5 separate regions of the Homo sapiens genome follow, and regions 2, 3, 4 and 5 are each linked to region 1. The links come from fine-mapping of genetic effects on gene expression. A gene starts in region 1. Each other region holds a variant in brackets. All regions are shown on one strand. Distances are from middle to middle. Region 1 holds the start of PROS1 (protein S). Region 2 has its middle 87 kb from the start of NSUN3. Region 3 overlaps PROS1 (protein S). Region 4 has its middle 110 kb from the start of PROS1. Region 5 has its middle 250 kb from the start of PROS1.

What was found. PIP is the estimated chance that this variant, and not a neighbour inherited with it, causes the effect.
Region 2: its variant is the best candidate, but not a certain one, in a credible set for the expression of PROS1 in atrial appendage (GTEx, PIP 0.84).
Region 3: its variant is the best candidate, but not a certain one, in a credible set for the expression of PROS1 in whole blood (TOPMed, PIP 0.56).
Region 4: its variant is the best candidate, but not a certain one, in a credible set for the expression of PROS1 in whole blood (INTERVAL, PIP 0.61).
Region 5: its variant is the best candidate, but not a certain one, in a credible set for the expression of PROS1 in subcutaneous fat (GTEx, PIP 0.68).

Annotation. Positions count from the first base shown.
Region 1 is chr3:93,971,391-93,977,866 of GRCh38, forward strand. PROS1 (protein S) reads right to left here and starts at 2,506. Exons shown (of 15, transcript NM_000313.4): 1 at 2,284-2,506. The coding sequence starts at 2,359. It also overlaps the pseudogene RNU6-511P. RefSeq lists a silencer at 155-449.
Region 2 is chr3:94,146,634-94,153,109 of GRCh38, forward strand. No RefSeq gene overlaps it. Among named protein-coding and RNA genes, the nearest start is that of NSUN3, 87 kb to the left of the region's middle. The variant C/T (reference allele first, on the strand shown) is at 2,868.
Region 3 is chr3:93,918,602-93,925,077 of GRCh38, forward strand. PROS1 (protein S) reads right to left here. Exons shown (of 15, transcript NM_000313.4): 3 at 5,639-5,663. Among named protein-coding and RNA genes, the nearest start is that of PROS1, 52 kb to the right of the region's middle. The variant T/C (reference allele first, on the strand shown) is at 4,088.
Region 4 is chr3:93,862,621-93,869,096 of GRCh38, forward strand. No RefSeq gene overlaps it. Among named protein-coding and RNA genes, the nearest start is that of PROS1, 110 kb to the right of the region's middle. The variant T/C (reference allele first, on the strand shown) is at 3,009.
Region 5 is chr3:93,722,020-93,728,495 of GRCh38, forward strand. No RefSeq gene overlaps it. Among named protein-coding and RNA genes, the nearest start is that of PROS1, 250 kb to the right of the region's middle. The variant G/C (reference allele first, on the strand shown) is at 3,710.

The DNA.
Region 1 (6,476 bases):
ATAAATAAATAATTCTAAATAAAGAACTACACAATGAATTACAAATAAAATATTTACAGCTCTAATTATATCTCAGATTTAAAATCATATGGAGGCTGGGCACAGTGGCTCACACCTGTAATCCCAGCACTTTGGGCAGCCAAAGTAGGCAGGCCGCTTGAACCCTGGAGTTCAAGACCAGCCTAGGCAATATGGCAAAACACCAACTCTACCAAAAAAACAAAACAAAATAAAAACCACACACACACACACACACACACACACACACACACACACACACATAAATTAGCTGGGTGCGGTGCTAGATAGGTGCTGATCTGGGAGGATCCCATGAGCTCGGGAGGGGGAGGTTGCCATGAGCTATGATCATGCCACTGCACTCCAGCCTTAGTGACAGAACTAGACCGTCTCAAAAAAGTAAATAAATAAAAATAAAGTAAAATCAAATCATATGGATTAAAAACATCACATCTATATCCAAATTTCCTCATAAGTAAACCACAGATGACTTTTAATCCAATTAAGCAATCAAAAACTTTTAACTGAAAGCATTATGGGGCCAACTATTCTTTATGTGATATACTTGAAGAATTAATTTATCTGCTCTATCAGTGTTATATATAACAAGTGTAATTCCCCATATGTTTATATATAATACACATACACAAACCCATATAATTTTTACCTCTGCCTAGATTCAGTCAAAATGTAACAATCTCTACAAAGAGAAAAAGCCTAGCAAATTTCTATGATGACAAGGAGTTAAGTGTGGCAAGCTACTTTGCCTTTCTCCTCTCCAAAACACTAGCTATGAAGCAAATATTTAATTGTCCTAATGAACTATTTAGGTAATAAGCGCATGTAGTTACAAATTGGCTGAATGATAGGGGTTTGAATGCTGAAGTTTTGCAATTGTAGCTGTTTAATGTAAGATCAAAAAATAATGTTTTAGTCCCAAGTTAGATTTTTAAAGTACTGCATTCATCCTGATGACTAACTAATAGAAACTAGTGGAATGTTAGCAAATTGATATATAATTTTCTAGAAATTTCCATCTTCAAAAAGTTTACTTTGGAGCTCTAGACTCCTAAAAGTTATTTGTAATTCAGAGTTCTCACTCCTGTTCCAATCCCTGAAAATAAAACATAGAACAAGAAGTCATTTTTGGCCAGGTGCGGTGGCTCACGCCTGTAATCCCAGCACTTTGGGAGGCCAAGGCGGATGGATCACCGGAGGTCAGGAGCTCGAGACCAGCCTGGCCAACATGGTGAAACCCCGTCTCTAGTAAAAATACAAAAAAAAAAAAAAAATAGCCGGGTGTCGAAGCAGGCACCTGTAATCCCAGCTGCTCGGGAGGCTGAGGCATGAGTATCACTTGAAGCCGGGGGGCGGAGGTTGCATTGAGCGGAGATCCAGCCACTGCAGTCCAGCCTGGGCAGCAGAGCGAGACTCACCCTCAAACAAACAAACAAAAAGGCGTTTTTATTCAATAAACACACTTACAACTTTAGAAAACAAATTAACTGACCACTAAAATGTACTAATTGCCTTGGTATTCCTTATATATTTTTCAGAGAAAACTCAATATCCTGTCTTGAATCCGGGCATAAGGACATAAAGAACCTGAAACACAAAGATAAAGAATTCATGCCACCACCTCAGATCAGTGGCATGCAGTGTTAAAAAATCCTCAGTACAAACGATCTGAGAAATAGAATACAGTATTTAACAGTCCTTTTGATTTCAGGGTTAGAAAGTGACATATATCTACTGCTATACAAACCCTCAGTCATCCTAAAACATTTCGTTAATGTGAGACAAGCAAACCAAGCTCAAAGTCCAGAAATTGCAAAAGGGAGGCAGGTTTCAGGAGACGGGTGCAGGTTGGGGGCAGGCGCTTGGACAAAGGGAAGACACAGTGTGTTACCTTTTCTTCCCTACTCATAAGCTAGAATCTGCTCATCCTAGTTCTCTGACTGGGAACTTCAGCTTTGAAGGGAAATGGGCAGGTGTTCTCATCCCTCCATTGATACTTAGTGTCATCTAGGTTCTTAGATCTGTCCTGTAGGCAATACATTCTCGCAACTGTGCAAATAGTGATCCTGCCCCACCATTGCACTGCCTGCTCTATCCACGGCTGTTTCCATCCGCTGGGTGTCTGTCGGTACTTACTGGAAACTTTCTAGGAGGCTGCAGCTCTAGAGAAGAAAATCCTACCAACCAGGGCACGCAGTTCAGTCGACAATGCTGGGGAAGGGAGAAGAGACGCTATTGATTACTCACAGTTTGCCTCTGAGACGGGAAGCACTAGGAGGAGACACGCCAGCAGCGCCCCGCAGCGCCCACCCAGGACCCTCATTTCGAAGCGCGCGGAGGCGCCGGCAGGGACGGTGGCGCGTCGCGGCGGGGACCGGAGCGCTAGGCGCCGCGGAGCTGCGAGCCTGTGCGCCTCGGTCTGAGCCGTGCTGCGCGGCGGCGCCAGCGACCCAGCGAGCCTCGGCGGAACAGCCGGGGGCGGAGGAGACCGCCCGCTCCCAGCGCCCAGCCCGAGAGGGGAAGTGATAACAAGGACATTTCCAGGAAGCTTTTCGGAGCTGGGGGATGGGCTCTAGTGTTGGAGGCCTAGTAAACACTGCTGAGACATCCTTCTTCACCAGCTCCCTAGTTGCTGCTTTTCCTCCACAGTGTGACGTTTCCAAAGGGGAAGGGGTGGGGAACGCAGTTCTCTGACTGGTCAAGACAACTTCCAGGGTTCAAGAGGACAGGATCCCTAGGTTCAGAAGCAGAAACAGTGAGACACTGAGTTGTCCCTGAAGATATTAACCAAAACCTGGAAGTCAATGAGGACTTTAGGAAGAACTATGGTGATAGTAAAAGCAAATGGGGTCATTTTGATCATCCACATGTTTTTTCGGTCTTGTATGCCATACAGGCATAAAAATAATGTAAAGAACATGAAGAAAAGAAGGGAATATTAGAATAATCTACCTTAAAAAAAATCTTGCTCCGATAAAGACTTCAGTTGAAAGTGAATATCTATCTATACATCTACCTATTTATTAATTTAAAAAAATTTTTTTTTTTTTTGAGACAGAGTCTCACTCTGTCGCCCAGGCTGGAGAACAGTGGCGCAATTTCGGCTCACTGCAACCTCCACCTCCCGGGTTCAAGTGATTCTCCTGTCTCAGCCTCCTGAGTAGGTGGGATTACAGGCGCCTGACACCATGCCTGGCTAGTTTTTTTGTATTTTTAGTAGAGACAGGGTTTCACCATGTTGGCCAGGCTGGTTCTGAACTCCTGATCGTGAGTGATCTGCCTGCCTCGGTCTCCCAAAGTGCTGGGATTACAGGTGTGAGCCACCACACCTAGCCTTATTTATTTATTTATTTATTTATCCGAGACAGGGTCTCACTAGGTTGCCCAGACTGGAGTGCAGTGGTGCAATCATAGCTCACTGCAGCCTCGAACTTCTGAGCTCAAGCAATCCTCCTGCCTCAGTCTCCTGAGTACCTAGGACTACAGTCACACACCACTATGCCAGGCTAATTTTTTAATTTGTTTTTTTTTTTTTTTTTTTTTTTTGGTAGAGATGGTATCGCTGTGTTGCCCAGACTGGTCTGGAACTCCTGACCTCAAGTGATCCTCTTGCCTTGGCCTCCCAAAGCTTTGGGATTACAGGTGTGAGCCACTTCTCCTGGCCTGAATATCTTTTTAATACCACAAATTTGCATCACATTGCCAGTAATAATTGTCAACACTGAAAATTTATGTGTCCTACACTGTAACGTCAAACTTTGTAAAACCATCTGGAATCTATTAATATACAATTTGACAATACATCTTTCAATAAAATTCTGGGTTTTTAATTAATCTCAGAAGTTAACTTTGTGAAAGTGATATCTGGCTTTAGCTCAATATGAATTGACACTTGGTAATCTCATTTAGCCAAAGTTTGGTTTTGATACAGACCTTAATATACAATTAAAACCTGTCCAAAATTTAACTCTTAATCTAGTCTCATTCATAATCTTAATCCCATCATTTTTCCAGTGTTACACTTCTCCATATCATCTTCTACCAACATAGTGTCTACTTATCCACTTCTTCATCTGTCTTCACCAGTAAAATGTAAGATTCATGAGAGCAGGAATTTTTAAAGGTTTTGTTCACAACTATATTACTAGTGCTTAAAACAGTGACTGGTACATAAACGTTTCATTCTATTTAAGTCAACAGTGTGTGCCTGGGAATATTTATGCCAAAATATCAACAATTATCCTGAAATGACAGTGTTAACTAGAATCATAGCAGCATGACTCTTTTCATCATTCAGAATAAACCAGATTACACACTAAAAAGCCAGAAAATTACAGTGTTTTAGATAAGAAGTGTTTATTTCTTGCTCATTGGAAGTCTACTACAAGTCTGCATGACTTTCCAAGTAACTATCTTCCATGTGTGAACTCAGCAATTCATGCTGCTTTGATTTTACAATCCCTCAAAGTCAACATAGTCTTCTACAATTACCATTGCAAGAGAAGAGAGAACATTGAGAATTGTGCCCCAGCTCTTAAATACTTTTACCAAGAAGTGACATACCACTTACATTTCATTAGACAAAGCAAGGCACGAGGTATGCCTGACTTGAAGAGGGTGGGAATAACTGTTATTTCATGTGCCTGTAAGGAAAGAGAACTAGACATGGTGAGCAGCACTTATGGCTACCAAACCACTTAAGATATTCAAAAACTAAGAGTCAGCTTTGCTAAGGGACTGCATGTTGGCACCAGGAATGCTCGGTAATGTTATCACTAGCAGAAATGGGGAAGGCATGAAGTAGAGCAGATGCTTTAATAGTATTGTTTCATTATGACATGGCTGAGAAAAATAAAATCAACTACTGGCCCAGGCCACTGTGTGTATGGAGTTTGCATGTTCTCCCCACGTCTGCATGGGTTTTCTCCAGGTACTCCATTTTCCTCCCACATCTGAAAGATGTGGATGTTAGGTGAATTGGTGTGTTTAAACTGTCCCAGTCTAAGTGAGTGTGGGCATGTATGAGAGCACCCTGTGATGGAATGGTGTCCTGTCAAGGGCTAGTTCTCACCTTTTACCCTGAGATGCCACCTATGATCCTGAACTGGAATAAGTGGACAAATAATTATCTTACTTGTTGTTATTCATCTTTCTTAATGTATAGCTCACATTTATTTCAATGTTTACTATTACTAGTGGTTCCATCTTTATTTTGAAGTTTGGTGATGTTTTTGTGACCAGAAATGTGCCACAGGAACTTAATTGATTTATATCAATTTGTCTGTGGTAAAATTGGTTTTATTGTATGTTATTTTGTTTAAAATTATAGTTTCTAAGAACCTCTGGATGAAGATAAATGAGGATTTACTGCAAAACTGGTGTTGAGTATATATTTGTGAAAAAACAGTCTTGAATATAGTTCTAAAAATGCTCAAGAAACATACACATCATGAGATCCTTCAGTCACAGAAATAATAATCAAATTCCATCAAGACAACATGTTTTAAAAAAGAAAAGCAGAGGGGTAAGGTCATATCTTAGAAGTTACATATAGAAATCCAGAGGAGGAATGGCCTGGGAGATCAGAAGAGAACCAGGGGTTGTGCTCACTTCATCAGCACATATACAACAATTGGAATGATACAGAGAAGATTAGCATGGCCCCTGAACAAGGATGACATGCAAATTCATGAAGCGGTCCATAATAAGTTAAAAAAACAAAGAAGAAGAGAACCAGGGTAGGGTAGTGCAGTGCATAACTGTGAAAGACCAAGGCAGGAAACAGTTTTAGAAAAGTTAACTATATTATATATATATTAAATAATAGAAAAGAAAACCGATTTGGTAATTAGGAAGATATAAGTTATATCAAAAAATATGCTTTCAGTAGTTAGATGGGACAGAAGCCCAATCATAGTAAATGGATCAAAGAGTGAATACAAACAATATAACTTTAGGGTTTGCAAGACACTAGTTTAAGAAAGTGAGTCATGAAAGTAGAGTCAGCAGAAACAGTCCTAAATTGGCTTGGAGTTAATGGAGCATTGCAGTCTTATCCTGCCCTGCTCTCCTGTCTCCCACCATGGATATTTGGAGGTAGGAGGACACATACCATAAGTGTTTATGGGACAGGTGACACCAACTTTAAAATTTGCTATCTATTATTTATCAGAAATTACACTTGAGCTTCATTTCTCTCATTTCATCACCTTAGCAACCTGGAAAAGTAGGTATTTTAATTTCCATGTTATAGATAGGGTTGTTGGAGCTTAGAAGAAAATATCCCAGAATAAAGGCCTCAGAAGCAAAGTTTCTGTCTCTAACCTTCTGTTCCTCGTCTCTTGCCCCTCATTCTCCCACTATGCAAGCCATAGAAACTATAATTCCTCTTTCTCCAGGTGCAGTTATAGAAACCACAACCCCCTTTCCCCAAAGCCAGC
Region 2 (6,476 bases), 180 kb after region 1:
TCGGTACAGCTAAGCAATTCCCATGCTGCTCAGGAGTCATGTATTATGCTGGCAGGCTGCCTCACTGGTGAGTTACCTTGAGACAAAAGTGTTGTCAACAGTGGAACAGTCAGTTTTTCCTTAAAGCCCTTTATTCACTCCTCTCCCCCAACTAGGTATAGCCGTATTTCTAGAGCAGCAATCACAAAGTACACCTAGTGATTTTATCAGGATTTCTGGCTAAATTAACTTAAACAGCGACACGAGTGGAAATATACCTCCCTGGCTTCCCTGCCAGCCTACCCTGAGAACATTCTGGCTTAATTTCTCTCTTTAACAAGACCAAGAAGACAGTCTTTTGCGTCTCCATGAGAAAAGTATTTACATATTCAGAAATCAGCTTGGCAAACCAGAGCTAAGAGTATGGGGAATAAACATTGTCTCTGTTCTTTTTTTCCTCTCAAAGTTGAGAATTAAATTCTTGAATATGATAAGAGCTAAAAGTTGGCAAAAGAGAGATGGCAACAGTGATGTGACATCTGTCAAAAAGTGTTGATCAGCGGAGGCCTCTCTGCCTACCTTGTGCACCCCTGGGCTCTCAGGTCCTTGACAGGTGTTTCCCTTTTTCCGCCTTCCTTTCCCTGGACTGGCTTCCTGGGCTTGATAGGGGCAGATGCAAGCATTCCACAGCTTGCATTGCCTCATTTAAAATGCACGGTGGGTAGAAATTAAAATTAAAATGAGTTCTTTTTTAAGCAAAAATGTCACCATTCTCTTTCAAAGATGATAACCTGAGTAATGACTATCAAGAGAAAAGATTGGTGTCAAATTATGAGGCTGTGCTTAGTGGGCTTATGATTTATGTATAGGAATACATCATTTTTTGACAAAGAGCAAGATGAGGTTGAAATTGTATTTATTTGGCAAGCCAAACTGGCTTCTTTGACTTTTTTTTTTTTTTTTTTTGAGATGGAGTCTTGCTCTGTCACCCAGGCTGGAGTGCAGTGGCACTACCTTGGCTCACTGCAAGCTCCACTTCCTGAGTTCACGCCATTCTCCTGCCTCAGCCTCCCGAGTAGCTGGGACTACAGGTGCCCGCCACCACCCCCGGCTAATTTCTTGTATTTTGTTTAGTAGAGATGGGGTTTCACGTTGTTAGCCAGGATGGTCTTGATCTCCTGACCTCATGATCCGCCCGCCTCGGCCTCCCAAAGTGCTGGGATTATAGGCGTGAGCCCCTGTGCCCAGCCTCTTTTACTTTTAAGCCATTGGCATACATTTAATATGTCATATGCACTTACTTAATATTGGGTAGCAAGGACATATGTGTTCATGTTCAAAACTAGGCTAGGCACTCCTCTACTGGATCACACAGGAAGTCTCCAAACTATTCTAGGAGATGAGAGCTGTCTCTTTGTGTTGTGATAGGTATTCTAAGCCATTCATTTTGAGCAAGATTTCTTTAGCTGTTTTCTCTGTTTCTCTCTCTTTTCTATTGTTACAAAGAGAGGTCTATAACTTTTGCAAGTAGAAAAATTGGTCTAACTACCACTAGCTTTCTTTGGAAATGTATATTTGCTTTCTTCCTGTCTCTTTCTCACTGGCATGTTATTTTAGCAGTCAAGCTATTTGTGTGTCAAAAATAAGTATGGTACATTTTCTAGTCTACCTTTACTAAGTAATAGTCATGAGTACAATCTCACATAAAATTTTGCAATAAGGAATTCAGGATAGGTTTTATTCTGCTTACTTCTCAAGAGAGCTGATTAAGTGAGAATCATTTGATCCAAATTCGTAGCTACTGCTGCCATGTTGAGTGCGGGGTGTCTTGAAGAGTATAATCCCCACCTTCCCACCAATCCAGGAAGGAAAATATTGAAGTTCCACATCTACAGCGTAATCTCTGTGTTCTGTTTCTTCTTGTCATTTTCGTTATATATACAGACCCCTCAGGAGAGAACAACGGTTCTGAGTCATATTTCACATTGCAACTCGTGAAGCATAAGAAATCTTGTTTCAAGTTGTGAAGAGGAGATCTGCACAAACACTACATACCATACAATACTTACAAAATTTAAGTTTGTGGTCCCTTCTTGAGTCCCACATGTAAAAATCACAAATCATGCTTTTGTGCATTTAGATATTTTACCAATGCTATTTTTCTCCCATCACATGTTCAAGAAGATCTTGGAAGAAGAGATATGCCATACGGAAAGAACAATGTCTTTGAAACGATTCAAATGCTTAGTAAATCATTTGGCTTCTGAATACTTGTTTACTCTTTTGTGGAATGGAGATGGTGATACTGTCATGAAGGGTTACTGTATGGTCTAGAAATCACTGGCGTTCAGGTAGGTAGACTCTTCTGAATCTGAGTCTACCACACTTTCCCTTGGCTGAGCATTATTCATAGTAAACCTGTTGTCCTGGATAATCCTGGTCACATGCAGTGTCCAGTACTGTGTATTTGTGTGCGGTTCCTAATGTGTCTAGTCTAACAGCTACTCTCACTGGTGTTCTGAGGCCCAGAACCTCTTAGAGCCAATGTGTTCTAGGTTTTCTAAGCTACTGCTTTCAATTCATGTTTTAAGCTATTTTTTTTTCTCATTGGTGAACATACAACTTTTGAAGTTCTGTTTCCCAGAGACTCCAGAGGCAGGCCTATGACTTGTTCATTCATCCATTCAACAAATATTTAGTCCTTTAACCAACCCCATATGCCATACCAACATTTCTAGATCCCCTTTACACTGTACATCTTCTATTTTTTTAATGTATCATTAGCATATCATGCAACTTATTCTTTTTTATTGCCTCTTGCTCCACTATAACGCAAGCTCCATTGGGACAGAGATCTTCATTTTATTCACTGATGCATCCCAAGCAAA[C/T]ACAATAATTCACAGGACATATCAAACATTTGTTGAATGAGTTTAGAATATATTATGTTTTAGGAACATGGGAACTGGTAAGTTATATTGCTCTTCCAGAGAACAGTTCATTCAGAAACTTTCTTGGTGTTCTTTAGAATTATTAAAGTTTCACATTGAGTATCCAGCTTCTTTCTTCTGTACACTAAAGCAAAGGTAACATCACATATTTTCTCTGAACTCCGGTAAGCTCTTGATCTCCTGTGGTCTGTGCCTTCATCCTCCTCCTCCTTATTATCATCATCACAGTTATCATCATCATGTTAACTAGTCTGCTAGATGGTTTCCAATGGTCTTTGCCAATGGTCTTTACACAAGCGTGTAGTCCTCTCCCGTATTGAATAGGGATGATGTGTGTAACCAATAAGAGATGATTATGTGTAATTTCTAAGGCTAGGTCATAAAAAATATTACAGCTTCAGCCTTTCTCTCTTAGATTATTTCCTTTAGGGAAACCAGGTTTCATGCCCTGAGGACAATAAAACAGTCCTCTGGAGAGGTCCAAGGAGCAAGGAACTAAGGCCTTCTGCCAAAGTTCCTATGAATGAGCCATTTTGGAAGTGGATTTTCTAGCCCTTGTCAAGACTTAGATGACTGAAACCCTAGCCAACATTTTGTCTGTAGTCTCGTGAGAAACTGAGCCAGAAACATCCAGCTAAACTGCTCCCAAAGTCCTGACACATAGGAATTGTGAGCTAATAAAAGATCATTGTTGTTTTAAGCTATTAAGTTTTGATGTAACTGTTACATAGCAGTAGATAACTAATGTAATCATCACTGCACTTCTTGAGTGCCTTCATGTACAAACAAGTATATGATTTCATTCTTAAAGCAAACATCTGAATTGTCTTAGCCCATTTTGTGCTGCCATAATAGAATAGCTGAAACTTCATAATTTATAATGAACACAAATTCATTTGGCTTATGTTTCTGAAGACTGGGAAGTCCAAAAACTTGGTGCTGGCGTCTGGAAAGGGTCTTTGTGCTGCATCATTCCATAGCAGAAGGTGAAAGAGCAAGTGAGCATGCAGGACAGAGAGGAAAGGGGCCAAACTTATCCTTTTATCACGAGCCCACTCCCAAGATAACTAACCCACTCCCATTATAATGGCATTAGTCCATTTATTATGGCAGAGCCCTTATGAACTAATCACCTCCTAAAAGTTCACTTCTCGATACTATGGCATTGAGGATTAAGTCAGGACACATGGCTTTAGCGGGCACATTCAAACTACAGCAGTAGTTATATCCTCATTATACAGATGAGAAAGTGGAGGGTCAAAGGTGTTAGTTTACACTTCCAGGGAGTGGAAGAGAGAGAATTTGATCACAGAATTCATTTTTAATGACTATGCTATTTTGAGTAGAGTATAATCTTTGGAGTATAAGGCTGCTTCTGGCAGAATGTCAGCATGGTACCTGAGAAACCTGGCAACCACAAATCACTTTCAATAATGTCCCTTTTCAGGTACAACATGCGAGCACATAGGTACTTTGATTTTCAGGAATTATCGAAAGCTTCTCCAAGTCCCATAAGATAAATGCACAGGTTTTCTTTAATAAAAATCCATGGCTCATGCTAAGTTTTTAATTAACTAGCTAGTAAGGTAGCTAGTTCCTGATGTGATGGCATTGCAAGAAAAGAGAGAGACCGCTAGGCACAGTGGCTCACACCTGTAATCTCAGGGCTTTGGGAGGCTGAGATGGGAGGTTCACTTGAGCCTAGAAGTTTGAGACCAGCCTAAGCAACATAGCAAAATCCCATCTCTACAAAAAATAAAAAAATTAGTTGGGTATGTGGCATGCACTTGTAGTCCCAGCTGCTTGGGAGGCTGGTGTGCCAGGATCACTTGAGCCCCGGAGGTTAAGACTGCAGTGAGCCATATTAGTGCCACTGTACTCCAGCCTGGGCAACAGAGAGAGAGAGATCCTTTCTCTCTAAAAAAAAAAAAAAAAAGGTTAAAAAAAAAAATCTTTGTCATTTCACAAATTCTTCACCAAGTCTAGCCTTCAAAGAGGGCACATTTCTTCAAAAGTAGGTGACCAATAGTGTCTTTCCCCTATTTTCCTGGGTTTGCTACTTTATATTTTATCTACAAAATGGCTATATCCCATAAAGGAGGACAGAACAGAAGAAATCCATAAAAACTTGGTAAATCCCTGACCTGAACTTTATCCACTTCCACTCTCCTATTGTGTTAGAATGCCTCTCAATCAGTCCTAAATAGGATTAAATGTAATTAAAGTAATTCTTCCAGCAGTACTCCATGAAAGCAATGTAGATATATGTTCTGATTGCTTAAAATGTTTACATGAGAATTAGACACAAAACTTCTGTCTGCAAAACAGGTGCAAAATTAAAATCTAACCGATGCATGCTTAAAGATAACAGCTTAATTTCCCCAAATTTATAAGCCACCTTATTTGCCATTTTTGTGCTCAATACTCCCATTGTCCTTTGTGTTTTAAATTCTTTTGCTGACTTATTTCCTGTGTCAGTTTTCCACAGTCAGCATCCTTTAAAATTGGCTTAGAATTTTGCTACAGAAAATGCTGAAAAATCCCTTGCTGATTGTGTATGGCATGTACCTCACATAAAATATACCATATCTCATTTTCTTTCTGAATAATTCTTCTTATAATCATGAAATTACAATGGAGGTAGGAAAACTATCTAGAGATGAACAAATGGTTGTTATAGGGTATATAATAGACTATTTTCCATGGTCACTAGCACTATATAAGACCTTGAACCTAAATTCGAAAAAGAAGGACACCAGTATAGAGAACCGAAGATTAGGTGTCAGCGCAAATAGCCAAATGGGAGATGTATTCAACAGGAAATTTAATACACCAACAGGGTGTTGTGGCAGCCAATAAAGCTAATGGGCATTAACACAAGAATGCTATCTAGAGGAGGGTGATAGCCATACTCTGCTCAGACATTTGCTAGAATATTGCATTATATTCTAAATAGCAAAATTTTAAAGGAATAGAAACAAATGAAGCTATGTTCAGATAACAGAATTTAAGATAGCAGAGTATTTGAAATCTATGTCACATGAGAAGCATATTCAAATATTTAATGAGCTCTGTGTATTCAGGTTCACATTTTTAATCACATTTTCAGAATATAGACCTAGAACCTATGCATAGGAAAAAAATAGGCTGAATCAAAGGAAAAAATAAGGAGATAATTAGCTGCTTCAAGAGGTGTGCGTTTGCAGGTATGGGTGGTGTTCAAATACAGAAAACTACTTGAGAGGGAATGCACACGGATGCATTATCTTTTAATGCACATTCACCTCATTCACTAATATGTTTTGCCCTATCAATGTCCAGGACTTGGGTCAATCAAACTGGCAAGTTCTTATTCCTGGGGGAAGGGTTTGTCTCAATGATGGCCAGGGCAGCAGAAGCACAGAGAAGGCTGGTTGCTATATCGTCTCTCCTCCCCACAATTTGTGAATTGGATTGGATAGGGGAGAACTGGAAAACTATTTGACAATAAATAGTAGGAAATTTAAAGATGTTCACATCATTTGACCCAACAATTTCACTTCAAGAGGT
Region 3 (6,476 bases), 53 kb before region 1:
CACCGCGAGGGTCGGCGGCTTCATTCTTGAAGTCAGTGAGACCAAGAACCCACCAATTCTGGACACAGCTGGGATTACAGGCCTCGCCACCACTCCTTCCTTCCTGGCTAATCTTTATATTTTTACAAGAGATGGGGTTTCATCATGCTGGTCAGGCTGGTCTCGAACTCCTAACCTCAAGTGAATCATCCTCCTCAGCCTCCCAAAGTGTTGGAATTACAGGCATGAGACATCATGCCCAGTGGTTATGTGTATTTTTAAAATTTGTAAGTGTTCTTGAAAATATATATTTACAATTTCATTTCCATGTTTTTTTTCACGTGTGTAAATGGTTTTGTGTTATATATCACATCCTCTAATTTTTTTCTCAGAACTTGATTTTTATGATCAATCCATGCTGCTACATATAATTCATTGCTACTAACCACTAAGTGTTACACCACAGTATGCAACCACCACTTTATAATTCTCTCTACCCATGATAAGACACTCAAATTACCTCCAACTTTCTACCTCTACAAGAAGGCGGAAAGTACATCCTCATGCATGTCTCCTTAGTACCTGCATAACAATTTCTTTGGAATAGATACCCAGTGGTGGAATTGTGTGATCATTAAATAGGAATGTACTTAATGGCTCTCAGAGGTGCATTCTCACCAGTGGAGTATAAGGATTTCTACATCCTTGCTTTCTAATTTTTGGCAGACTAATAGGTAGTAAAGTAATATCTCATTATTTTTCTGATTTCTAAGGAGAGGCAGCATATTTTCATGTCATTTTCCAAATCTGAAAGTTTTCTTCTTTGAAAATTTTCCCTATTTTTTTTTTTTACCATTTTTCTATTGATCCTTATTTGTTTTTCCTGCGGATTTGAAAAAAAATAAACATTTATAAATATCACCTCTTGATATTTATATTTTTGATATTTATTTGACAGAGACAGATCTGTCATTTGTCTCTTAATCTTACTATTCATGTCTCTCTTGTAAGATAAATTCTTAATTTTGTTATAATCCAATTTATTATTTCACCTTACAGCTTGTGAATTTAAAATTTTCCCCCATGTCATCAGTCACAAAGATATTCTCCCATATTGTTTCTTTAATTTCATGGTTTTATTTTAACATTTTTGTCTTTATTCCATCTAGAATTCACCTTTACACTTGGTGGTAATTAGAAACCCATGTTTATTTGTCTGCTAATAGCTGGCCATTCTTCGCAATACCATCTTTAAATAATCCACAGTGACTTACAGTATCATCTTTATCAAATATTAGGTTGTCATAGATATGAGCCTTTCTCTGAACTTTCTGTTCAGTTTCATGTTCTGAAAATACCATATAGTTTTATTTCTATAGCTTTATATTATTAATATTTGATAAGATATTTCTCTCTTTTGTATTTTAGACATGTGTGGACTTTTAGTTCCTCAGTTAAATTTTAAAATGAGTTTACTGAGTTTCTCAAAAATATTTTTTTAAACAAGATTGCTCTGAACATATAAATTTGAGGATGGCCACACATAGTACCTCACACCTATAACCCCAGCACTTTGGGAAGCCCTGGCAGGAGGACTGCTTGAGCCCAGGAGTTTGAGACCAGTGTGGGCAACATAGTGAGACCCCATCTCTAAAAATATAAAATATAATAAAATAAAATAAAATCAATTTGAGGAGAACTGATCACTGTATAGTATCACTCAATTCAAGATCATGAAATATCTTTCCATGGTTTTAATTCATTTTCTAAGTCTTCAATTTGAGTATTAACATTTTCTCCATAGGGTTTTTATGTGTTCTTAAGATATTTCTAGATATGTTATGGGATTTGCTGCTATTGTGAATGCTATCATCTTTTTAATTTCTACTAGACTACTGCTTGCATAAAGAACTACTATGGATTTTTATAGGAGAGTCATAGAATTATCTAAATACCTTATGTGTTCCTATATTTTGTCTATGGATTCTATTTTTTTCCAGTATTATATCTATTAAAAGTAATGACAGGAATATACTATAGCTTATGATCTATACAATCCCTATTTTTCTTTTCTTATTGCATTGAATGTAACCTCCAGTACTTTTCTTTTTGTTCTCAACCATAAAGAAACTATACCTAAATTTTATTCATTAGGTATAATGTTTACTGCAGATTTTGTTCACTTTCTTTTTCTTTTCTCTCTCTTTCTCTTTCCATCTCTCCCTCCCTCCCTCCTTTCTCATGCTAATTTGCTCAAAACAACCCTATCTTATTCTTGTTCTAGCTGACATTACCTTATGCATTATTAATCCTGAACTGAAGTGTGAAAATTTGGAAGATTAATTATATGGTTATTCTAGATTTAACCTTTATCAAGCTCAGAAACTTTTCTTATATTCTTAGTTTGACAAAAACTTTTATCATAACTAAGTAGTGATCTCTATCAACTGCTTTTTCTGTATGAACTGAGGTAATAATATACTTTTAGTGGTGGGGTCTTACTATGTTATCCAGGCTGGTATCAAACTCCTGGCCTCAAGTGATCCTCGCACTTCAGCCTCTTGAGTGGCTGGGATTACGGGCATAAGCCACTGCACCCAGCTGATTTCCTGATGTTAACTCACCTTTAAATTTCTGGAATAATTCTACTTGATCATGATATTATTTTTAACACACTTAAGATCGGACTGAATATCATTTTATTTAGAATTAATTCAAAATCAAAAGGAATGCTATTTTTCTTTTCTTTTATTCCCTCACTTAAATTTTAAAATGAGTTTACTAAATGTCTTTATTTGATTTTGGAGTCAAGATTACATAAGCCTCTTAGAATAAGCTCATTTTTTAAGGACAATATCTTAATAAGGGAAACATTAACAATTTCTTAAAATTTGGAAGAGTTCATTTGTAAAACCATCTGGATCTGGGTTTCGGGAGAAATAGGAAGAAGAGGGCTTTGGCTGCGGTTTTAACTTGTTTAATACTCGTTTGTATAACTAAGTTCTCTATTGCTTCCTGTGAAATTACAGATATTTTATGTTTTTCTAGGAACACATCCATTTTATTTAGGTTTCCAAGTGTATTTAATATAGCTGTTTGTAATATTTTATGATAATATTTTTAATCTGTGTTGAGTTTAGAATATTTTCCCTTTCTATCTTGTACTCTATGTATTGGCATTTCCTCTTTCTCTTTTTTGTTTTTCCTTGATTATTCCTGCCAGATGTCAGTCTCACTTACTAACCTTTTCAAAGAATGAGAATGTGCTTTTGTTAATGCTCACTTTTGTTTTTCTATTCCACTTATTTCTATCTCTGTTTTTGTTATTTTAAAACTTCTTGTTACTTGGGGTTTGCTCTATTGTATTTTTTGTGTTTGTTTTCTCAATTGGAAAGTTCATGTCATTTTTTAAATTATCAAATCTGTTTTGTCACTACTGCCTTGTCAGTTAGAACCCAATCCCCCACCACACATACCAGCAGGTCAGGCCAGCTTTTCGCCTACCCAGGCATTTCTTAAACTTCTTTTTGTCATTTTATTTTGTTATTATTAGTGCTTGGAATCTTATTGTTTCTTTAGAGAAGATTTGAAGGGAGGGAGTCAGCATTCTGAGGTAATTCACCAACTTATCTTAGAAACTAAAAATAATTTCTTTTTTTTATTTTTCAGGTTTTTTCCTTATTTTATTTTTTGCCAGCTCACATCAAAAAATGATTTCTAATGTTTATATTTAGGCTCAGAGTTCACCATTCTTCCCAGGAAGTTTCTCTCTCTTTACTAGAAACACTCACTCTATTAGGTGATACTAGGCCTATGGAAATGGTAGTTATTTATTCCACTTCTTACAAAAGAGAAGAACACAATTTAAAAACTATAATGAAACCCAGAGTACTTATTTCCAAATCGCATGTTTTCAAGATAGTACATGGAATATGTAGGCCAATTGAAGTGCTTTATCAGCCCCTGAAAACGAAGTCTAAATATTGCCCCAAATATATGGGTTACAATTTTTTAATTTCTTTGGTGACCTTATCTCACTACAGGGACCTTCCTGTATGAGCTGTTGTAGTTAGTAAAACTACTGTTAGATTTACCAGAGAAAGGACTG[T/C]TTTGTTTTGCTTTTCAAATTAGAGCCATTGGCCTATAGAATATACACATCAAATAACAAAAAAAGTGTAACTTAGGCAGGACATTTTTAAAAATTGTTTTTAACAGTGGAATTCACCACACATGCCTATATACAAATAAAGACCAAAATATGAAATTTAAATTAAAAAAAATCATAATAAAAAGTATATTTTTGTTTCACATGATGGGTTGATTAAACAAGAATACATCTGAAGAAATTTTGACACATTAAGTTATTTATGTACGTTGACATATTTGGTGATTTAAAAGCTCTGAAGTTAGAAAATATAGTTACAGTGCACACTTAAAACTACAGAAGCTGGAAAGCTAAACAACTTGTTTAATCTGAAACAGTTAAAAATTTTTAGGTCTGAGCCTGGATCCCACATCTTGTGTTTTTGTTTTAGTTTGTTTTATTTTATACTTTGGTTTTTTTTACCATGTTGCCAAATGAGATAGGCAAAGAGAAGAGTTGGGCAGGGCCAGAAAAGCGGAAGTTAAGAGAGATACAAGGATAAAATTATGAAAAATATTTTATCTAAGGAACTTCCCCAGAACACATAATGCTGTATTAGCATGGTATTTATCTTTATCCAAATGTACTCTGATCAAAGGAATGTATCCTCTACAGTATTGTGCGTGCAAAAATGCAGCCTCATTACATGGCCCTAAGAAGCAAGAGTTAACACTGTTTTTTTAATGTACACATAATATTTAACAGCCAAATATTGTCTATTTTTATTATAAAATATTTACATTTCTATCTAAAATTAAAAAGCTGAAATAGTCTTGATATACTATCTTTTCTACACTTTAATAGTACAAATTCTTGCATGTAACTTTACAAAAGAAAACATCTTTTTCATGGATATATCCATATCCCACTGCCCTTTTAAAATACAGCAGCTAAGGCTGGGCAGGGTGGGTCATGCCTGTAATCCTAGCACTTTGGGAGGCTGAGGAGAGTGGACACTTGAGCCCAGGAGTTCAAGACTACCCTGGCCAACATGGCGAAACCCTGTCTCTACTAAAAATACAAAAATTAGCTGGGTGTGGTGGCACATGCCTGTAATCCCAGCTACTCGGGAGGCTGAGGCACTTGAGAATCACTTGAACCAGGGAGACAGAAGTTGCAGTGAGCTGAGAGCAGGCCACAGCACTCCAGCCTGGGTGACACAGCAAGGCGCTGCCTCACAAAAAAAAAAAAACAGTTAACCCATGAAAACGCATATGCTCATAGACTATGTCTAGCACCTCAATATAACTGAGCATCAGCCCAAGAGCTTCATGAGAAAGACATGAGAAAGAAAAACACTAAAATTTAAAATGTCACATGGTAATTAAAGAACCGTTCCAAATTTCTCAACATGTGTTAAATATAAAGACAGCAAAATTGCATATAAAATGAAACCTCACTCCCAAGGATAATGAAATTACATTGGATGGAATAGATAGGTGGAGAGTTAGACAGGAACATATCTAAGTTCCCTTCCATTTCTAAGATTATATAATTGAGATGTTTTGAACTTACCTAAGTATTTTGGATAAAAATAATCCTAGAAAGAAGAAAAAGAAAACATATCTTAGCAAACCTAAATTTCATTATAGAGTTAAAACTTAATTTTATAATGTGTTTTTATATTAAAGATGCAAATAAGTTACATATAACCATCATTTTCACATTATAATTTTTATATAGTAAAATATACCAAGAGAAAACAATAAAATTAAGCCAGTAAGATACTTAGGCTTAAAGAAATATTGATCAATTAATCATGTTTCAAAAGCTTCTAATCTAAAAACAAGCTCTATTTAGGATGGTAAATATAATCATACATGCCCTTTTTTGTACATCCTTTAATTTTTCCATAATGATTAGATAACCATTTGACACATTTTATGTCATAATGGTCACCTACACCAGATTCAATGTTGAATCACAGTAACGTACTCTCTTTTTTTTTTTTTTTTTGAGACGAGGTTTCTCTGTGTCACCCATGCTAGAGTGCAGTGGTATGACCATGACTCACTGCAGCCTTACCCTCCTGGGCTCAAGTAATCCTCCCATCTCAGCCCCCCAAGTAGCTGGAACTACAGGTACATGCCACCATGCACAGCTGGTTTTTTGTTGTTAATTATTTTTTTGTAGAGATGGGGTCTCACTATGTTGCCTAGGCCTCAAACTCCTGGGCTCAAGCGATCCTCCCACCTTGGCCTCCCAAAGTGCTGGAATTACAGGTGTGAGCCAAGGTGCCCAGCTAACAGTGACATACTTTGAAGTGAATTAAAGTAGACATTTATCTTATACATCTTATGTACATGTAGTACCTTACCTATAAATTGGTTGTGTACCAAAAGTTTGTCTGTAA
Region 4 (6,476 bases), 110 kb before region 1:
TAATCCAGTTAAGTTGGGCACCTAAAATTAACCAATGCAGTTGTTAAAAAAACACAAATAAAAAGTATATATTCAAATTAGTAAACTTGTACCACTTATAGGAAGTATTTTGAGCTTCTTTTCTCAGTCTAAAATATACTTTACATATTCTATTATACAATTAATAGAGCTAAATAATTTAGTCCCTGGATACAGAATAATATAAATCCCCAGAATAATTTCGAATGACACTTTTCCTGACTTTACCTCAACATGGTCATGGCACTACTTTTTCAGGTCTAATAGCCTGACACCTTCTAGTTTCTAGTCAGTCAAATTAAATGTAAGTAATAGTAAAGGTGATAAAAGCTACTTTTGGAAACACAGCTTTATTAATTAAAACTATTTTTTCTTATTTAACATTTGATTTATTTAATATCTCCCATTCTGCCCACTCCAAAGAAGCCTTATATTTGTTTTAATAAAAGGGATTAAAAAAATTTTAAAAGCATTATATAACTACCATTAAATGAATAGATCATAAAATTAAATTTTTATTTGTATGAATCTACAGTCTACAAATCAAGGCCAAATTGAATATGAGATTCTAGTATTTTTTTTAACTTTCTGAACCACACAATCAGCTCTCTGAAAATCATATAAAAGAACCACAATATATCAGTGCTTTAAAGTAATTCTTTCAGGAAGCAATAATGACATTTTAATGCTTTCAGAGGAAATACATCTGAATGAATTATGCTAGTTAATTATTTCCTAGGTTCTTTACCTTCCTCCTCACATAATTTACAAGCAACTCAGAATCTATTTCTTTTGTTAAATGACCATTAACATGAGTGCTTAGTGGATTAGCATTTCTGTTCATACACCATACTGATCTGAACGTATGTTCTAATGGTGCTGGTGAAAATTGTGATGCTGAAATATACGGCATAAAAACACATTTTAAGATTTTAAAATATTACTCTTTTCTTAAATCTGGCACTGTTAAACAAAGGGACAGATTTGAGCCACTTTAGATCAAAAGGAAAGTACAGTCTCTCTTCTTCCCCACAAAATTGAAATGAGGCAAATAAAGCAGCCTGTTACCATTTTCAAGTCTGGTTTAAGACAAGACAGGTTTGTTATGTGGATATATTTCATAATGCTAAGATTTGGACTTCTAATGATCCCATTGCACAAGTAGTAAGCACACAACTCAATAGGTAGTTTTTCAGCACTTGGACCCTTCCTCTCTCCCCACTTAGAATATCCAATGTTTATTGTTCCCATCTTTGTGTCTATGTGTACCCAATGTTTAGCTCCCTTTTATAAGTGAGAACATTTGGTATTTGGTTTCTGTTTCTGCATTAATTCTCTTAGGATAATGGCCTCCAGCTGCATCCATGTTGCTGCAAAGAACATGATTTCATCATGTTTTACAGCTATGTAGGATTCCATGATATACATGTACCACATTTTTAATGTTAATTTTATTTTTAAATTTATTCTTGGAGCCTATAAATTGGTAAATTACAATAGTAATAGCACAAATAGTAGCAATACAGAGTATTCAGCAATATTGTAATATTTCTTTTTACTCAACAGTCCACCTTTGTGTTTCACTTTCCATAAACAAATACACTGGATTAAAGCAATAATACTTCTCTCGGAATTCTGGAACTGGGACTGAAACCTAGAAATGATTATTACTCTGCCATGTCTGAACTGTATCTAACATGAACATATAAATGCAGAAGTGGTTGGCAGGCATGCCCCACAATGTAAACTGAAGAGTTGAGGAAACCAGCATGTATTGAGAGAGTAATATGTAGTTGCTTGAAGAGAAACAGTAATGAGAAACAAAGTGAAGGAACTTCCTTATTTCACTACAGCAAATCCAAGCCCCAGGAATATTCTTTCAGCCCTAGAATTCCATAAGATAACTAAATACCTTTTCTAAAATTCTCCTTTTGCTTAAGCTAATTCAAATTGAGTTTCTACTACTTGCAACCAAGGGAGCTGTAAGCTCATTTATATTGACTCTCAGTAACACAGGAGTATTTAGTGTTGAATATGAAGAGTCTGCTTTTGGTTTCATGAAAAGGATTGCTTTCTAATAGTCAGAGCTCACTGTAGCAGACATGAACGGGGTTCTGCCCAGACCACCTCCAAGAGAACCTTCTGCAAAATAGAGCTGACTGACAGACCACTTGTTATTCCTCTGGACCTACCGGGCTGCTTCCCAACTAATGACTGAGCACAGTGAGGGTACTTATGCCAGGCCCTTCCTGCTTGATGCAGGACCCTTCTGATGGGCAACTTTTTTCAAGAACTCCTCATCAACATAGCTGAAACCTTCTTAGAACTGCACTCAGATCTGAGACTTCCTATCATCCTACTTCCTTCTCTCCTTCACAGGTGTCCAATTTACATGGCTACATGAAGATTCTTCCTACCCATTCCTGTACCCTCCTTTTTCCTTCACAGATGTTTCTCCCTGTTTTATTTGTTTGCTAGGGCTGCCATAATGAAATATTACAGAGTAGGGGGCAATTGGATTTTTTGCAGTTCTCGAGCCTGAAAATCTAAGACCAAGGCATGAGCAGGTTTGGTTTCTCTTGATGTCTCTCTCCTTCTTTACAAATGGTCATGTTCTTACTGTGTCCTCACATGGCCTTTCCTCTGTGTCTGAGCATGCCTGGTGTCTCTCTCTCTTTATAAAATGACACCAGTCATATTGAATTCTGGCCCAACCCATATGACCTCATTTAACCTTACTTACTTCCTTAAAGGCCCTATCTCCAAATGTAGTCACTTTGGAGTTTAGGACTTCAATATTTCAACATATGAATTCTGGGGAGACACAATTCAGTCCTTAACACCTGTCTAATCTCTGTTGGAATCTGCTTTTTGAAAGTCCCAAACTGATGCCGTGAACAAAGGGAAAATGAGCTGACTTTGGTTAATAGTGAGCTCTGCATCAGTGAAGATGGTCACACAGAGCCTGAGAGATGACTGTCCAGTGACAG[T/C]GACTGGTCCACTTGATTAGATTTCTATCTAAATTCCACACTCACAGAGTTATTTATTTTTTATGGAACATTAACAATTAAAAGTAACCTGGAATCTGTCAGTTTGATACTAAGATAAAAGACTAAATTAGCATCTTTGAAAACATGATATGAGAAGAATCATAGAAGACACATTTGCTTTCTAGGTTAGTCATCTTTATGACCGTATTTGTACAAAGGCACATAGATATTTGTGTCTTGTTCATTCATCTATATCTATCCCAAATGCCCAGAAAGCATAGTGTTTGGCACATTTTGTGTGTTCCACAAATAGTTGTTGGATTAATGGATTGGTCATTGCCTTCCCAACACCCCCACAGTTACCATACCAATAGGTTCTCAGGTTCTATGTGTTAGAAATAACTGGAGGACTGTGATGATTATGATGCAAATGAGAGATTTAAGATGAATGATTTTACTGATTTTTCTTTCTTTGTTGGGTATTTTGGAAAGTTCCACATGGGAGGTAGAAGATACAAGTCTTCATGTTTAGTTTTATGGCCCCCGAAGGCATCCAGGTATTTCTTCTCTGGGTTGAACAATCTGACTCCCAAGAAGTCTACATTATTATACCAGAATCTTTCTAGTAATTAGGTTCATTAAGGCTTAGTTTTTCTTCCTAGAAATAAAGGCTGACAGGAAGGAGGGAAGACTTAGGATTGGATGCCATGCTTCATGGCATCCATGAAGCTGAAATGAGCTGATGAGAGAAAAAATAGTGAGTGCTTAAAAGCTGCAGATACTTAGGTTTCTAAGACATTCCTGGAGAATATCTATTTGAAACATCAGAGGGGAGAGTATAGATACCAGGAATAGGAGAGTTTCACTCAAATTGGCTTGGCACAGATAAAAATTTCTTTGAAAGCTACTCTTTTTAGTTGGGTATACATTTGTCAAAGGTTTTCAAGAGCACCAAGTTCTGACCTCTAAGCAGATTCTTTAAAAATCAGCAAACTAACACAGGAACAGAAAACCAAGCACCGCATATTCTCACTCATAAGTGGGAGTTGAACAATGAGAACACATGGACACAGGGAGGGGAACATCACATATCAGGGCCTGTCGGGTGGTGGGAGGCAAGGAGAGGGATAGCATTAGGACAAATACCTAATGCATGCAGGGCTTAAAACCTAGATGATGGGTTGATGGGTGCAGCAAACCATCATGGCACATGCATACCTATGTAACAAACCAGCACATTCTGCACATGTATCCCAAATCTTAAATAAAAAAAAAAAAATGGTACTTGCAGAGAAAAAGAAAAAAATATTTAAACTTTTAGAATAATTATTCTACATATTTCTTGAGTTATATCAAAGTCAGAAGAATGTTTGAAATTGATAAAAAAAAAAAAAAAAAACTCCTCCAAGGAGGTATTGAACATGTATCAAGGGTAGCTACAGCATTATCTCAATGATTGATTCTACCACCGAGTGCAGTCCAAGCAAGCTTCTTCCTTCACGTAATAGGATGAATATACCACTCCCTTTAACTCAGTAGTCTTCATAAGCTAGTAAATTGACATCCTACTGGATTTTTCTCTCATGACATCCCAGGTGTTGCCCATTGTATTTCTAGCTCACCATTAGTGTGCCAGTTACAGCTGATGATGCTTGGGCTTATTGTATAGCAGTAAGTTTAAACGTTTTCGTAGTTCCATTTTCAGCATGAAATTCATCACATGTTCAGAAGAGTCCTTTTTACTCTGCACTTCCCCAAATGCAATAACTGACAGCTCCATTTGTTGTAAATTGACTGAACCCCAAAGAGGTCAGGAATAAGGCAGAGAGAGATTAGTGGTTGCAAGCTCCCCACAATCCCCACTCCTGGCAGAATGTCACAAGGTCATCATTCCTGTACCATCCTACAGAGGATTTCTTGATGACCAAGAAGGTCAGAGATGATTTGGGGGTGTATGCTGTCTAGCAGCTACTTGGCCAACAGCTCCCCCTCCAGGGCACTGGAACATCATTTCCACAGCAAGTCAAGGTTGCATCCTCACCTTGGATAAACTAGCTGAGGACCCTCTTCCTCCTGCCTCACTTTCCATTTCCTTGTCTCTTCCTTTGTGATTTATCCTCTGTCTCTTTCTCTTTGCTCATCATCTCTTTCTTTCTCTGGCTTTTTTCATTTTCTAAAATCATTTTCTACTTGTTCCTATTTCCTCTTTCCAGACACATTCTTCTCTCTCTCATAATCTCTGAATTATATTTTTTATAATCTCTGCCTCTTTCTTGTCTTTAGTCTGGAAATCTTTCCCTCTTTCTTTCCATTTATATTTGTTCTTTATGTCTGTCTCCCTTTTTTATGTTTGGGGTTTTTATTGTTTGTTTTTGAGATAGGGTCTCACTCTGTTGTCCAAGCTGGAGTGCAGTGGTGTGACCATAGCTCAATGCATGCTTGTACTCTTGGGCTCAAATCATCCTCTCTCCTCAGCCTCCCAAGTAACTGGGACTACAGGCACACATGCCACTATGCCTGGCTAACATTTTTTTATTTTTTATTTTTATATTTGTAGATATGGGGACTTCCTTTGTTACGCAGGTTGGTCTTGAACTCCTGGCCTCAAGCAATCCTCCCACCTTGGCCCCCCAAGATTTGGGGATTACAGATGTGAGCCACTGCACCTATCCCCTTTAATATGTTTGGTTAAACCTCCTCTCCCCTACCAATTTTCTCTCCTCTCTCTTTTCTTTTTTTCCTTCCTTCCTCCCTCCCTCCCTCCCTCCCTTCCTTCCTTCCTTCCTTCCTTCCTTCCTTTCTTTCGTTTTTTTTGAGACAGGGTCTCACTCTGTCACCCAGGCTGGAATGCAGTGATACAATCATGGTTCACCACATCCTCAACCTCACCTGGCTCAAGTGATCCTCCCACCTCAGCCTCCTGAGTAGCTGGGACTACAGGCATGGGCGACCAGGTATGGATAGCTTTTTGGGTTGTTTTTTTTTATTATTATTTTTTTGTAGAGACAGGGTTTTGCCATGTTGTCTAGGCTGATCTCTGACTCCTGGGCTCAAGCCATCTGCTGGCCTCAGCCTCCCACAGTGGGATTACAGGCGGGAGCCACTGCACCTGGTCCCTCTCCTCTTTCTTATATGCTTATCTGGTGTGGCATCAATTTGTCGCTATCTACTGCTATTTGTTTACAAAAAAAGTAGATATTTATTTTTCTATTATTTCTCCATCTCCTCTTCACCCTCCTCATCAAGTATCTTTCTATATTCTTTACTTTTCTTTCCCTCATTTTCAATTTTTATCTTACCAAATCTTTCACTGAATTTGTTTCCTACCTTTCTTGTTTTATGTCTTCTCTTTGTTGTCTTTTTCTCTCCTCCTGGTTTTGTACACACACACACCTGTTCTTCCTCCCTACCTCCCTATCCTTCTTTTTCCTGTCTCGCTTTTTGTTTTTTTTGTTTGTTTGTTTGTTT
Region 5 (6,476 bases), 250 kb before region 1:
ATCCAAATGCAGACTTTAAAAACAGAGTTTTTCAAAACTGCTGTATTAAAAGAAAGGTGAAACTCTGAGAGTTGAACGCACACATCACAAAGTAGTTTCTGGAAATTATTATGTCTAGCTTTTATATGAAGATATTTCCTTTTCTACTCTAGGATTCAAAGCGCTCTAAATAACCACCTGGAAATACTACAAAAAGAGTGTTTCAAATCTGCTCTATACAAAGGATGGTTCAACTCTGTGAGATGAATGCACACATCAGAAAGAAGTTTCTGAGAATTATTCTGTCTAGTTTTATATGAAGAAATCCATTTTCCAACGAAGGCCTCAAAGAGGTCCAAATATCCACTTGCAGATTCTACAAAAAGAGTGTTTCAAAACTGCTCTATCAAGAGAAACGTTCAACTCTGTGAGTTGAATGCAAACATCACAAAGTAGTTTCTGAGAATGCTTCTGTCTGGTTTTTATGTTAGGATATTTCCTTTTCTAACACAGGCATCAGAGTGCTCTAAATACACACTTGCAAATTCTACAAAAAGTGTGTTCCAAAACTGCTCTATCAAAAGAGTGGTTAAACTCAGTGAGTTGAATGCACACATCACAATGTTGTATCGGAGAATGATTCTGTCTAGCTTTTATAGGAAGATATTTCCTTTTCTAACATATGCCTCAAAGCTCACTATATATCCACTTGGAAATTCTGCAAAGGAGTATTGCAAAACAGCTCTACTGAAAGGAATGTTCACATCTGTTAGGTGAATGCACACATCACAAAGAAGTTTCTGAGAATTCTTCTGTCTGGTTTTATATGAAGAAATCCCATTTCCAACGATGGCCTCAAACAGTTCCAAATATCCACTTGCAGATTCTACAAAAACAGTATTTAAAAACTGTTCTATCATGAGTAATGATCAACTCTGTGAGGTGAATGTAAACATCACAAAGTATTTTCTGAGAATGCTTCTGTCTAGTTTTTATGTGAAGATATATCCTTTTCTACAATAGACCACAAAGCGCTCTAAAAATCCACTTGCAAACTCTACAAAGAAACGTTTCAAAGATGCTCTATCAAAAGACGGTTCACCATTGTGAGTTGAATACAGACATCACAAAGAAGCTTCTGAGAATACTTCTGTCTACTTTTTATGTGAAGATACTCCCGTTTCCAAAGAAAACTTCAAAGCGCTCCAAATATCCAAACGCAGTCTTTACAAACAGAGTGTTTCAAAAGTGCTCTAAAAAAAGAAAGGTTAAACTCTGATAGTTGAATGCAAACATCACAAAGTAGTTTCTGGGAATGATTCTGTCTTATTTTTATATGAAGATATTTCCGTTTCTACCATAGTTTTCAAATCGCTCTAAATATCCACTTTGAAATTCTACAAAAAGACTGTTTCAAAACTGCTCTATCAAAAGGAAGGTTCAACTATGTGAGTTGAATGCACACATCACAAAGAAGTTTCTGAGAATTCTTCTGTCTAGGTATAAATGAAGAAATCCATTTTCCAACGAAGGCCTCAAAGAGGTCCAAATATCCACTTGCAGATTCTACAAAAAGAGTGTTTCAAAACTGCTCTATAAAGAGAAATGTTCACCTCCGTAAGTTGAATGCAAACATCACAAAGTAGTTTCTGTGAATGCTTCTGTACAATTTTTATGTGAAGATATGTCCTTTTCCACCGTAGGCCTCAAAGTGCTTTAAATTAAATAAACACCTGCAAATTCTACAAAAAGAGTGTTTCAAAACTGCTCTATCAAAAGAAAGGTTATACTCAGTGAGTTCAATGCACACATCCAAAGTAGTTTCTGAGAATGATTCTGTCTAGTTTATATATGAAGATAATTCGTTGTCTAATATAGACCTAAATCACCCTAAATATCCACTTAGATATTCTACAGAAAGAGTGTTTCAAAACTGCTCTATTGAAGGGAACGTTGAACTCTGTGGGTTGAATGCAAACATCACAAAGAAGCTTCTGAGAATTCTTCTGTCTAGTTTTTTTATTAAGAAATACCCTTTTCCAAAGAAGGCCTCAAAGAAGTCAAATATCCACTTGCAGATACTACAAGAAGAAGGTGACAAAACTGCTCTATAAAGAGGAAAGTTCAACTCTGTGAGTTGAATGCAAACATCACAAAGTTGTTTCCGAGAATGGTTCTGTCTAGCTTTTATGTGAAGATATATCATTTTCTACCATAGGCCCCAACACACTCTAAATATCCACTAGCAAACTCCACAAAGAAGTGTTTCAACGCTGCTCTATCAAAAGGAAGGTTCACCTCTGTGAATTGAGTACAGACATCAAAAAGAAGTTTCTGAGAATACTTCTGTCTACTTTTTATGTGAAGATACTCCCGTTTTCAAAGAAAACCTAAAAACCCTCCAAATATCCAAAAGCAGACTTTACAAACAGAGTGTTTCAAAACTTCTCTATCAAAAGAAAGGTGAAACTCTGAGAGTTGAACGCACACTTCACAAAGTAGTTTCTGGGAATGATTCTGTCTAGTTTTTATATGAAGGTATTTCCTTTTCTACCGTAGGATTCAAAGCGCGCTAAGTAACCACCTGGAAATACTACAAAAAGAGTGTTTCAAATCTGCTCTATAAAAAGGATGGTTCAACTCTGTGAGTTGAATGCACACATCACAAAGAAGTTTCTAAGAATTCTTCTGTCTAGTTTTAAATGAAGAAATCCCGTTTCCACCGGAGGCCTCAAAGAGGTCCAAATATCCAATTGCACATTCTACAAAAAGAGTGTTCCCAAACTGCTCTATCAAGAGGAATGTTCAACTCTGTGAGTTGGATGCAAACATCACAAAGTAGATTCTGAGAATGCTTCTGTCTAGTTTTTATGTGAAGATATTTCTTTTTCTACCATAGGCCTCAAAGCACTCCAAATATCCACTTGCAAACACTACAAAAAGAGTGTTTCAATACTGCTCTATCAAAAGGAAGGTTCACATCTGTGAGTTGAGTACAGACATCACAAAGAAGTTTCTGAGAATAGTTGTGTCTACTTTTTAGGTGAAGATATTCCCGTTTCCATGGAAAACCTGAAAGCGCTCGAAATATCCAGATGCAGACTTTACAGAGTGTTTCAAAGCTACTCTATCAAAAGAAAGGTAAAATTCTGTCAGTTGAAGGCACACATCACAAAGAAGTTTCTGAGAATTCTTCTGTCTACTTTTATATGAAGAAATCCCATTTCCAATGAAGGCCTCAAAGAGGTCCAAATATCCACTTGCAGATTCTACAAAAATAGTGTTTCAAAACTACTCTATCAAGAGGAATGTTCAACTCTGTGATTGAATGCAAACATCACAAAGTGGTCTCTGTGAATGCTTCGGCCTAGTTTTTATGTGAACATATTTACTTTTCTAAAAAGGCCTCCAAGCGCTCTAAATACACACTTGCAAATTCTACCAAAGAGTGTTTCAAAACTGCTCTATCAAAAGAAAGGTTAAACTCAGTGAGTTGAATGCGCACATCACAAAGTAGTTTCTAAGAATCATTCTGTCTAGTTTTTCTACGAAGATATTGCCTTTTCTACCATAGGCCTTAAACGGCGCTAAATATCCACTTGGAAATTCTACAAAAAGAGTGTTTCAAAAATGCTCCATTGAAAGGAACGTTCACCACTGTGAGTTGAATGCACACATCACAAAGAAGTTTCTGAAAATTCTTCTGTCTAGTTTTATATGAAGAAATCCC[G/C]TTTCCAAAGAAGGCCTCAAAGACGTCCCATTATCCAGTTGCAGATTCTACAAAAAGAGTGTTTCAAAACTGCTCTATCAAAAGGAAGGTTCAACTCTGTGAGTTGAATGCACACATCACAAAGTTGTTTCTGAGAATGCTTCTTTTTATTTTCCATGTGAAGATATTTCCTTTTCTACCATAGGCCTCAAAGCACTCCAAATGTCCACTTGGAGATTCTACAAAAAGAGTGTTTCAAAACCACTCTATCAAAAGGAAGTTTCAACTCTATGAGTTGAATGCACAGATCACAAACAAGTTTCTGAGAATGCTTCTGTCTAGTTTTTATTGATTTATTTATTTATTTTAAGTTTTTTCTTCTATTATTATACTTTAAGTTTTAGGGTACATGTGCACATTGTGCAGGTTAGTTACATATGTATACATGTGCCATGCTGGTGCGCTGCACCCATTAACTTGTCATCTAGTATTAGGTATATCTCCCAATGCTATCCCTCACCCCACCCTCCACCCGACAACAGTCCCCAGAGTGTGATGTTCCCCTTCCTGTGTCCATGTGATGTCATTGTTCAATTCCCACCTACGAGTGAGAATATGTGGTGTTTGGTTTTTTGTTCTTGTGATAGTATACTGAGAATGATGATTTCCAGTTTCATCCATGTCCCTACAAAGGACATGAACTCATCATTTTTTATGGCTGCATAGTATTCCATGGTGTATATGTGCCACATTTTCTTAATCCAGTCTATCATTTCTGGACATCTTGGTTGGTTCCAAGTCTTTGCTATTGTGAATAATGCCACAATAAACATATGTGTGCATGTGTCTTTATAGCAGCATGATTTATAATACTTTGGGTATATACCCAGTAAAGGGATGGCTGGGTCAAATGGTGTTTCTAGTTCTAGATCCCTGAGGTATCGCCAAACTGACTTCCACAATGGTTGAACTAGTTTACAGTCCCACCAACAGTGTAAAAGTATTCTTATTTCTCCACATCCTCTCCAGCACCTGTTGTTTCCTGACTTTTTAATGATTGCCATTCTAACTGGTGTGAGAAGGTATCTCATTGTGGTTTTGATTTGCATTTCTCTGATGGCCAGTGATGATAAGCATTCTTTCATGTGTTTTTTGGCTGCATAAATGTCTTCTTTTGAGAAGTGTCTGTTCATGTCCTTTGCCCACTTTTTGATGGGGTTGTTTATTTTTTTCTTGTAAATTTGTTTGAGTTCATTGTAGATTCTGGATATTAGCCCTTTGTCAGATGAGTAGGTTGTGAAAATTTTCTCCCATTTTGTAGGTTGCCTGTTCACTCTGATGGTAGTTTCTTTTGCTGTGCAGAAGCTCTTTAGTTTAATTAGATCCCATTTGTCAATTTTGGCTTTTGTTGCCATTGCTTTTGGTGTTTTACACATGATGTCCTTGCCCATGCCTATGTCCTGAATGGTAATGCCTAGGTTTTCTTCTTGGATTTTTATAGTTTTAGGTCTAACGTTTAAGTCTTTAATCCATCTTGAATTGATTTTTGTATAAGGTGTAAGGAAGGGATCCAGTTTCAGCTTTCTACATATGGCTAGCCAGTTTTCCCAGCACCATTTATTAAATAGGGAATCCTTTCCCCATTGCTTGTTTTTCTCAGGTTTGTCAAAGATCAGATAGATGTAGATACGTGGCATTATTTCTGAGGGCTCTGTTCTGTTCCATTGATCTATATCTCTGTTTTGGTACCAGTACCATGCTGTTTTGGTTACTGTAGCCTTGTAGTATAGTTTGAAGTCAGGTAGTGTGATGCCTCCAGCTTTGTTCTTTTGGCTTAGGATTGACTTGGTGATGCAGGCTCTTTTTTGGTTCCATATGAACTTTAAAGTAGTTTTTTCCAGTTCTGTGAAGAAAGGCATTAGTAGCTTGATGGGGATGGCAATGAATCTGTAAATTATCTTGGGCAGTTTGGCCATTTTCGTGATATTGATTCTTCCTACTCATGAGCATGGAATGTTCTTCCATTTGTTTGTATCCTCTTTTATTTCCTTGAGCAGTGGTTTGTAGTTCTCCTTGAAGAGGTCCTTCACATCCCTTGTAAGTTGGATTCCTAGGTATTTTATTCTCTTTGAAGCAATTGTGAATGGGAGTTCACTCATGATTTGGCTCTCTGTTTGTCTGTTGTTGGTGTATAAGAATGCTTGTGATTTTTGTACATTGATTTTGTATCCTGAGACTTTGCTGAAGTTGCTTATCAGCTTAAGGAGATTTTGGGCTGAGGCAATGGGGTTTTCTAGATATACAATCATGTCGTCTGCAAACAGGGACAATTTGACTTCCTCTTTTCCTAATTGAATACCCTTTATTTCCTTCTCCTGCCTAATTGCCCTGGCCAGAACTTCTAACACTATGTTGAATAGGAGTGGTGAGAGAGGGCATCCCTGTCTTGTGCCCGTTTACAAAGGGAATGCTTCCAGTTTTTGCCCATTCAGTATGATATTGGCTGTGGGTTTGTCATAGAGAGCTCTTATTATTTTGAAATACATCCCATCAATACCTAATTTATTGAGAGTTTTTAGCATGAAGGGTTGTTGAATTTTGTCAAAGGCCTTTTCTTCATCTATTGAGATAATCATGTGGCTTTTGTCTTTGGTTCTGTTTATATGCTGGATTACATTTTTTGATTTGCATATATTGAACCTTGAAGCCCACTTGATCATGGTGGATAAGTTTTTGATGTGCTGCTGGATTTGGTTTGCCAGTATTTTATTGAGGATTTTTGCATCAA